Homo sapiens: one gene and its partner. The protein of the gene in region 1 interacts with the protein of each later gene in a biochemical or structural test. Each region holds a gene or a part of one and is shown in the gene's direction. Other genes may lie near its edges. The genes, in order: NUDT7 and PEX5.

Region 1 (4,360 bases):
TTTTCTTTTCTTTTCTCTTTTCTTTCTTTCCTTTCTTTCTTTCTTGGTTTTTGTTGTTGTTGTTGTTGTTGTTTTGTTTTGTTTTGTTTTTGAGACAGAGTTTCGCTTTTTTTTGCCCAGGCTGGAGTGCAATGGCGCGATCTCGGCCCACTGCAAACTCCGCCTCCCAGGTTCAAGCGATTCTCCTGCCTCAGCCTCCTAGTAGCTGAGATTACAGGCGCCTGCCACTGGCTAATTTTTGTTTTTTTAGTAGAGATGGGGTTTCACCATGTTGGCCAAGCTGGTCTCAAACTCCTGACCTTAGGTGATCCACCCGACTTGGCCTCCCAAAGTGCTGGGATTACAGGTGTGAGCCACAGCGCCTGGCCCAGAGTCCACATTTTTAACAGGACCAAAGTGATCCTGATTCTGCTGGTCTGAGGACCACACTTTGAGAACTACTGCTTTCAAGATGAGCTGCACTTCTATTTCCTCTACCAAGCCTCTTCTGTCTCCTAATTGGGTCACATTTCTCCTTCACACGCTCTAGAAGGACCAAAGGCCACTGCTTTATCAGTGTGATTTTTTTTTTTTTTTTTTTTTGCATTAAAAACTTCTTATCTTCTTCTTCTTATTTTTGAGACGGTCTACCTCTGTCAGGCTGGAGTGCAGTGGTGCTATCACGGCTCACTGCAGCTTCGACCTCCTGGGCTCAAGCGATCCTCCCACCTCAGCCTCTTGAGTAGCTGGGACCACAGGTGTGTGCCACCACGCCTGGCTAATTTTTTATTTTTATTTTGTAGAGATGGGGTTTCGCCATGTTGCCCAGGCTGGGCTCGAACTCCTGGATTCAAGTGATCCTCCCCTCTTGGCCTCCCAAAGTGTTGGAATTACAAGCATATGCCACTGCATCCAGCCCTGTGTGATTAATTTATGTTTCTACCATTTGACTGTGAGCTCCACGTGTCTTTTCGCTAGCTGTGGGATCTGCACCCAGTGCATACAGGTGGTCGGTGAACAGGTGCTGACAGCAGTTCCAAAAAGTTGAATGAATCACCTTAACCTTCCAGCAACAGCGAATGCGAGTGTAAAATATTATCACCTCACCAACACTGTATTTTTTTTTTTTTTAACTCTTCCAGCTCTAAATTCCACAACTCCTCCTATACCTCTTGCTTCCATAGAAGCCCAAGGAGCCCGGCAGAAACTGCTTTGAGCAACCAGGAACACCCGGCCCTAAGTCCCGCCCCGCGCCTCTCCCCACCTCAAGTCCCGCCTCTGGCTATAAGCCCCGCCCCGCCCCGATCCCGGCCTCCGATCCCAGATCTCGCACCGCCCCGCCCCCTGTCTCCGCCCCAGACACCACCCCGCCTCGTGCTCTAAGCCCCGCCCCTCTCTCTGGCTTTAGGCCGCTCCCAAGCCCAGAGCTGCTCTGCGCAAGCGCGACCGACCGAGCAGCTCCGAGGAGTCCGCCCGGAAACAAACATTCCCCAGGGCAATGTCACGACTTGGTCTTCCCGAGGAGCCAGTCAGGTAAAGGCTTTCCGGGCCCTGGCACCCCGAGCTTGGTCAGGCCCGGCCTTGATCGTAGCGGAGGCCACCGGGGCCTTTTGGCCGGGACTGATTTTGCAGCTCCCGCCAGTCCACCTGCGAGCGCCGGATGGGGGAGCACTCGCCTCCAGCAACCCGCAGGGTCCCCGAACCTTTGCACTGCTCTGGCCAGGAACAGAGCCGGCTTAAGCCAGTATGGTTTACATACACGCTGCTCCCCTTCCCAGCCGGCTTGGCTGTTCTGCAATCCGCGTCTCCAGAGTTGGACCCCAGGACCCCCGACAGTGGCACAGACCCGCAGCAGGCAGCCCCGGATTCAAGTCCCCCGGTGGCTACTTTCAGTTGTGACCTTGGGTCTGTCAGTTTCGTAAACTCTCTGAGCCTGGAGGTGACCCTGTGATCACTTGCCGGGCTGTTGTGAGGATAAAATGAGAAACGTCAAAATTGAGACCATGCTCAGAACGGGGTGGCTGCTACTGCTGTTGATACCTTGGTGATTATTCCAGCGGCCAGCCCCTAAAGTGGACAGATAACGTTTTTGCAGCCTTTTACTTTGGCTGGTTTGTCTGGTCAGTTCTGTGGTTTCCGGGTGGTTAAAAGCCACCAGCCCACAGTTTCCTTTTCTGGAGGCTGGCCTGCGTGCATCCAGATGCACTGTGCAATCCCTGTGCCAGCATTCACTGATTTTTTTCAGGCCATTTGGTCTTTGAAATACACTGCCGTTACCCAACCACATCTGGTGAGCACCCTGCCACCTAGAAAGAGGCAAAAAATAGCAAATACCTCCTGCAAACAACTGCTTATCTAATGATGGGGAGATTTATGACAGTGGTTACCATTCCCTGAGCACCAGCTGTGTGCCAGCCACAGTATATGAACTGCATCATTTAATCTTCTTAAATATCCTCAAGCCTGACACAAATGAAGATGAAACTCAGAGAAGTCATTTGTATACACTTTTTTTTTTTTTTTTTTGAGACAGAGTCTCACTCTGCCGCCCTGGCTACAGTGCAGTAGGCAATCTCGGCTCACTGCAGCCTCTGCCTCCTGGGTTCAAGCGATTCTCCTGCCTCAACCTTCTGAGTAGCTGGGATTACAGGCATGTGCCACGATGCCCGGCTAATTTTTGTATGTTTAGTAGAGGTGGGGTTTTACCATGTTGGCCAGGCTGGTCTCGAACTCCTGACTTCAAGTGATTCACCTTCCTCAGTCTCCCAAAGTGCCGGGATTACAGGCATGAGCCACTGTACCAGGCCTCCTATATACATTTGAAGCCAATTCTGGGTATCTTAAATAGCTGATTCTGCCCACTATGCAAAGCTGCCTTCCCACAGAAAAAGTAAAATCAGCTGTTCCTTTTCTAGGGCTGCCATAACAGAGTACCACACACTGGGTGTTTTAAAACAATAGAAATGGTCTCTCATGGCTATGAAGCCTGGAAGTCCAAAATCAAGGTATCGGCAGGGCCTCACTCCCTTAGAAGGCTCTGGGGGTGACCTTTCCTTGCCTCTTCCAGTTTCTGGTGGTTTCTGGCATTCCTTGGCTCACAGCAGCATCACTTCAACCTCTGCCGCCATCTTCACATGGTCTTCTTCCCTGTGTGCATCTCTCCATGTTTTTTCTTCTTTTATTTTATTTTATTTTTGAGTCAGGTCTCACTCTGTCACCCAGGCCGGAGTGCAGTGGTGCAATCATGGCTCACTGCAGCCTTGAACTCTGGGGCTCAAGTGATCCTCCCACTTCCGCCTTCCAAGTAGCTGGGAATACAGTTGCATGCCCCATGCCTAAGCTAATTTATGCTTTTTTTTTTTTTCTTTTGTAGAGACAGGGTCTTACCATGTTGACCAGGCTGGTTTCAAACTCCTGGGCCCAAGCAATTCTCCCGCCTCAACCTCCCAGTGTTGGGATTACAGGCGTGAGCCGCTGCACTGGGCTCGTTTCTGCTTCTTATCAGGACAACAGTCATTGGATTTAGAGCTCACTTTAATTACATCTGAAAAGATCCTATTTCTGAATAAAGTCACACTCTGAAGTTTGGGGTAGACATGAATTTCAGGGGTGAGGGGATACTGTTCAACCCACTATACAAACTAGCAGTAGAACACACCTGTCAAAAGGACCAAAACAAGTCCACATAGGAAGGGCACCATTTGCGGTTTTAAATCCAAATGCTTGCATATTATTGGGAAATTGTTCTCAGAATGTGTTCCCCTGTCCACAGCGTCAGTAACGCTGTCATGAGGGAGTTTGATACAAATGCTAATTCTCAGGCCCTACACCAGAGTTACTGAGTCACAGTCTGGGACTGAACCTCGCAGTCTATGTGACAGCCAGCGCTCCAGGTGATTCTGTTGCTGCTAAAGCTTGGGAACCACTATTATAAGCAGTTGAAGACATAAGAGTTTGAGAACATAAGGGCCAGCTTAACAGAAGGTAGTCTTCTAACCTTCTAACCTTAACAATGACTTTTTCATCAAACCTGTCTTCTCTGAATATAATTATGGGTTTCAAAATTCAACTGTTGCATTATTGAAAAAACATTTTACCATACTTTATGTTTCAAAGAGAACCTGTGTACTAAACTGTGTGCTTAGAAGGTTTTTTTGTCATTTTCATCTTGCGAACAACCACGCAATTTAGATAGTATCATTTCTGTCGTGTTATTGAAAAATACACAGAGAGTCAGAAATGGCAAACTCCTAAATACACAACAAAGCAGAAACAGAGGCAGGACTATAAGCTTTTTACCATAACTCTGCTTGCTAAAATGTCTGTCTGGTTTGTTTTTATTTTAGAAACAGTTTGCTAGATGATGCTAAGGCCCGCTTAA
Region 2 (2,955 bases), on another chromosome or scaffold:
TGATCACTGGACTAGCGTCATTTTCTGCCTTCTTAGTTTTTATATTATGCAGAGATGTCCAAAAACACACTTGTTTTCAATATAAATATACTTTCTATACATTTATCTCAAATCTACTATAATATGTCTTTCTTCTTAAACCCCCCATTGTAATTATTTAATTTTCATTTGTGACAAATAATTTGCATCTGATCATGACTTAGAATTTTGCTGGTAAGATTTAAGTGTTTTTGATTCTTTATCATTTTCACAATAATAATGAAAAAGGGCCTCATGTCTTTATTTTGTACAGTTTTATCTGAATTTATTCTTAACTGCATTTAGAAAGACCTCCACCTGTTGTTTTGCATCTTGTTTTCGTTCTGGTGTATTATTTTATGATGGTAACTACTCTCCAAAAACGGACTTTTTATTTGCATGTCCCAGATTTTGCAGCTTACTAGTGACTTCCCCTTTACCTCATTTCTTCTCTGCCTAGTGTAAAATGCCAGTTGACAAAGCTTTGCAGATAGTATCGTAACTCTTCTCTAAAGTGAGAAATCCTCAGCTGGAAGAGAATGGTGTCTTTCTGAAGTATTCTCTGCCATCTGGATTTTGGGATCCAGCTTTTGCTTACTGTCAGATACAGATTAATATTCATGATTATTAAGAATGAAATCGGGGAATAAATTAACATTTTCAAAATGCTTGAAAATGTTTTATCTAGTTGACATGTGGAATGACTCTGAGCTAAGTAAGAGTTATATTTGAATAGCAGGACTCCAAACAACATTTCCTTTATACATCATCACATTATTGAAGGATAACAAGAAATGCACTTTGCATAGCTAGGGACACTTTGTCTCATTACTATAAGCAGATCCTGTTGAGACATTCTGCCCCGTGGTGAGAAGTCAAGGTGTGGGAATACAAGCCTGTGATGACTTCCTAAAATAAGCTTATTTCCAGCGCAGATGAATTTGTAGACTTTCCTAGCTTCCCAGGTATCATGAACAGGAGATGGGAGCACAAACCTGATACCAAATGATTTTACTTGTGTCATACATGATCTTTATAATATGGAGAATTTGCCAGCAATTAATTCCGGAACCTGTTTGGAGGCCCTCAGCTTCTCTGCCTGCTGGTTGTCATCCTCACATCCCTGCTGTTCTGACGGTGCCACCTCTCAGTCCATCTCTCACGTGCTTTTCTTGTAGGGGTACCAGTTTGAGGAGGAGAACCCCTTGCGTGATCACCCTCAGCCTTTTGAAGAAGGGCTGCGGCGCCTTCAGGAGGGGGACCTGCCAAATGCTGTGCTGCTTTTTGAGGCAGCTGTGCAGCAGGATCCTAAGCACATGGAAGTGAGTGACTCCATAGTCTCATTTCTGGCTAGAGACTGCTTCCTCCATCTTGAGAAAGGCCCCAAGGAGAGTAGTGCAGATGGGTTAGGGCCTGGGTGATGGCCTAGGATAGGGGCTTGAGAGCGAGATGGTGAGTGGGAGAAGCCAGGGGGAAGGGCGAATGGAGAGGTGAATATGGGGTGATGGAATCTGTCAACTTCCCTCTAGGCTTGGCAGTATCTGGGTACCACCCAGGCAGAGAATGAACAAGAACTATTAGCCATCAGTGCATTGCGGAGGTGAGTACACTGAAAGGTGTGGGTGAGGTGCTTCCAAGGCTCTGCATATAACCTTTTGAATGACAGAAGCCCAGACCTGGATCCTTGTCTTCTTTCTGAGTGCTATCAAGAGTGTTTTCTCATGCTGAAACTCTGAGGGTTGGAGTGAATTCCATTCCTTCATCGGCTTTTGATTTTATTTGCGGCTTTGGTTGGCTCCTTGCCTGCTAAAACCTTCCCCTTAGATCTGTAACTTTATTATTAACTCATGTCAGAGGAGTCACAGGTGAGGCCATTGTGACTCTGCATTTCAAAGCTTGGCTTGGATCCCAGGGTGCTCACATGTGCCAGTGTCAGTCATTGCAGATATCAAGTCTGCCCATCCCTGATCAAACAGGTGTCTGGAGCTAAAGCCAGATAACCAGACAGCACTGATGGCGCTGGCTGTGAGCTTCACCAACGAGTCCCTGCAGCGACAGGCCTGTGAAACCCTACGAGACTGGCTGCGGTACACACCAGCCTATGCCCATCTGGTGACACCTGCTGAAGAAGGGGCTGGTGGGGCAGGACTGGGCCCCAGCAAGCGTATCCTGGGATCTCTCTTGTCTGAGTGAGTATGAGGGGTTCCTAGGATGAGGAATTACAGTAACCTAAGTCCCAGTAGGAGGGTGACCTTGGTTTTGGAAGTTTGGATGGATTGAGACTGAAGGGTCCTGAGAATGGGATGGGAAACCTAGGATCAAGTTGAAGGAGGTCTGCATTCTACAGTTCAGTGCTAGGATGAAATAGAAAAACAGGCTTCTATATTGGACTTTGAGAGTAGAAGAGATGACTGATAGATTGATGAATGTTGGGGATATGGTTGATCAATGAAGAAATTAATTTGGGGGGATGGGAATAGAGACATTCATCTACCTACTTTGTGTTTTTTTCCTTTTCATCCAGCTCCCTGTTTCTTGAAGTGAAAGAGCTCTTCCTGGCAGCTGTGCGGCTGGACCCTACCTCCATTGACCCTGATGTGCAGTGTGGCTTGGGAGTCCTTTTCAACCTGAGTGGGGAGTATGACAAGGCCGTGGACTGCTTCACAGCTGCCCTCAGCGTTCGTCCCAATGTGAGCCCAGGGGAGGAATGGAAATGGGACATGACTGTGTACCTTATTGAAGAGCCATTTGTTGGGAAGCTGGGTTTGATGGTGCATGCCTGTAGTCCCAGCTACTTGGGAGGCTGAAGTGGGAGGATCACTTGAGCCTGGGAGTTCAAATCCAGCCTGGGCAACATAGCAAGACCCTGCCCACCCCCACAAAAAAGAATAATTTGTTCAGACTTTTGGAGTCTTGGGGTATTTCATTCCAGTGTTC

The links.
Region 2: the proteins of NUDT7 (region 1) and PEX5 interact in a test that uses a peptide from one of them, tested with the Homo sapiens proteins (one large-scale study listed by BioGRID).

What each region holds. Positions count from the first base shown.
Region 1 is NC_000016.10:77,721,106-77,725,465, forward strand, and holds the start of NUDT7 (peroxisomal coenzyme A diphosphatase NUDT7), read left to right. Parts: upstream 1-1,408; 5' UTR 1,409-1,477; coding exon 1,478-1,512; intron 1,513-4,325; coding exon 4,326-4,360. UniProt on the Homo sapiens protein: Fatty acyl-coenzyme A (CoA) diphosphatase that hydrolyzes fatty acyl-CoA to yield acyl-4'-phosphopantetheine and adenosine 3',5'-bisphosphate. Cleaves CoA, CoA esters and oxidized CoA with similar efficiencies.
Region 2 is NC_000012.12:7,206,463-7,209,417, forward strand, and holds part of PEX5 (peroxisomal biogenesis factor 5), read left to right. Parts: intron 1-1,196; coding exon 1,197-1,340; intron 1,341-1,547; coding exon 1,548-1,618; intron 1,619-1,994; coding exon 1,995-2,207; intron 2,208-2,542; coding exon 2,543-2,708; intron 2,709-2,955.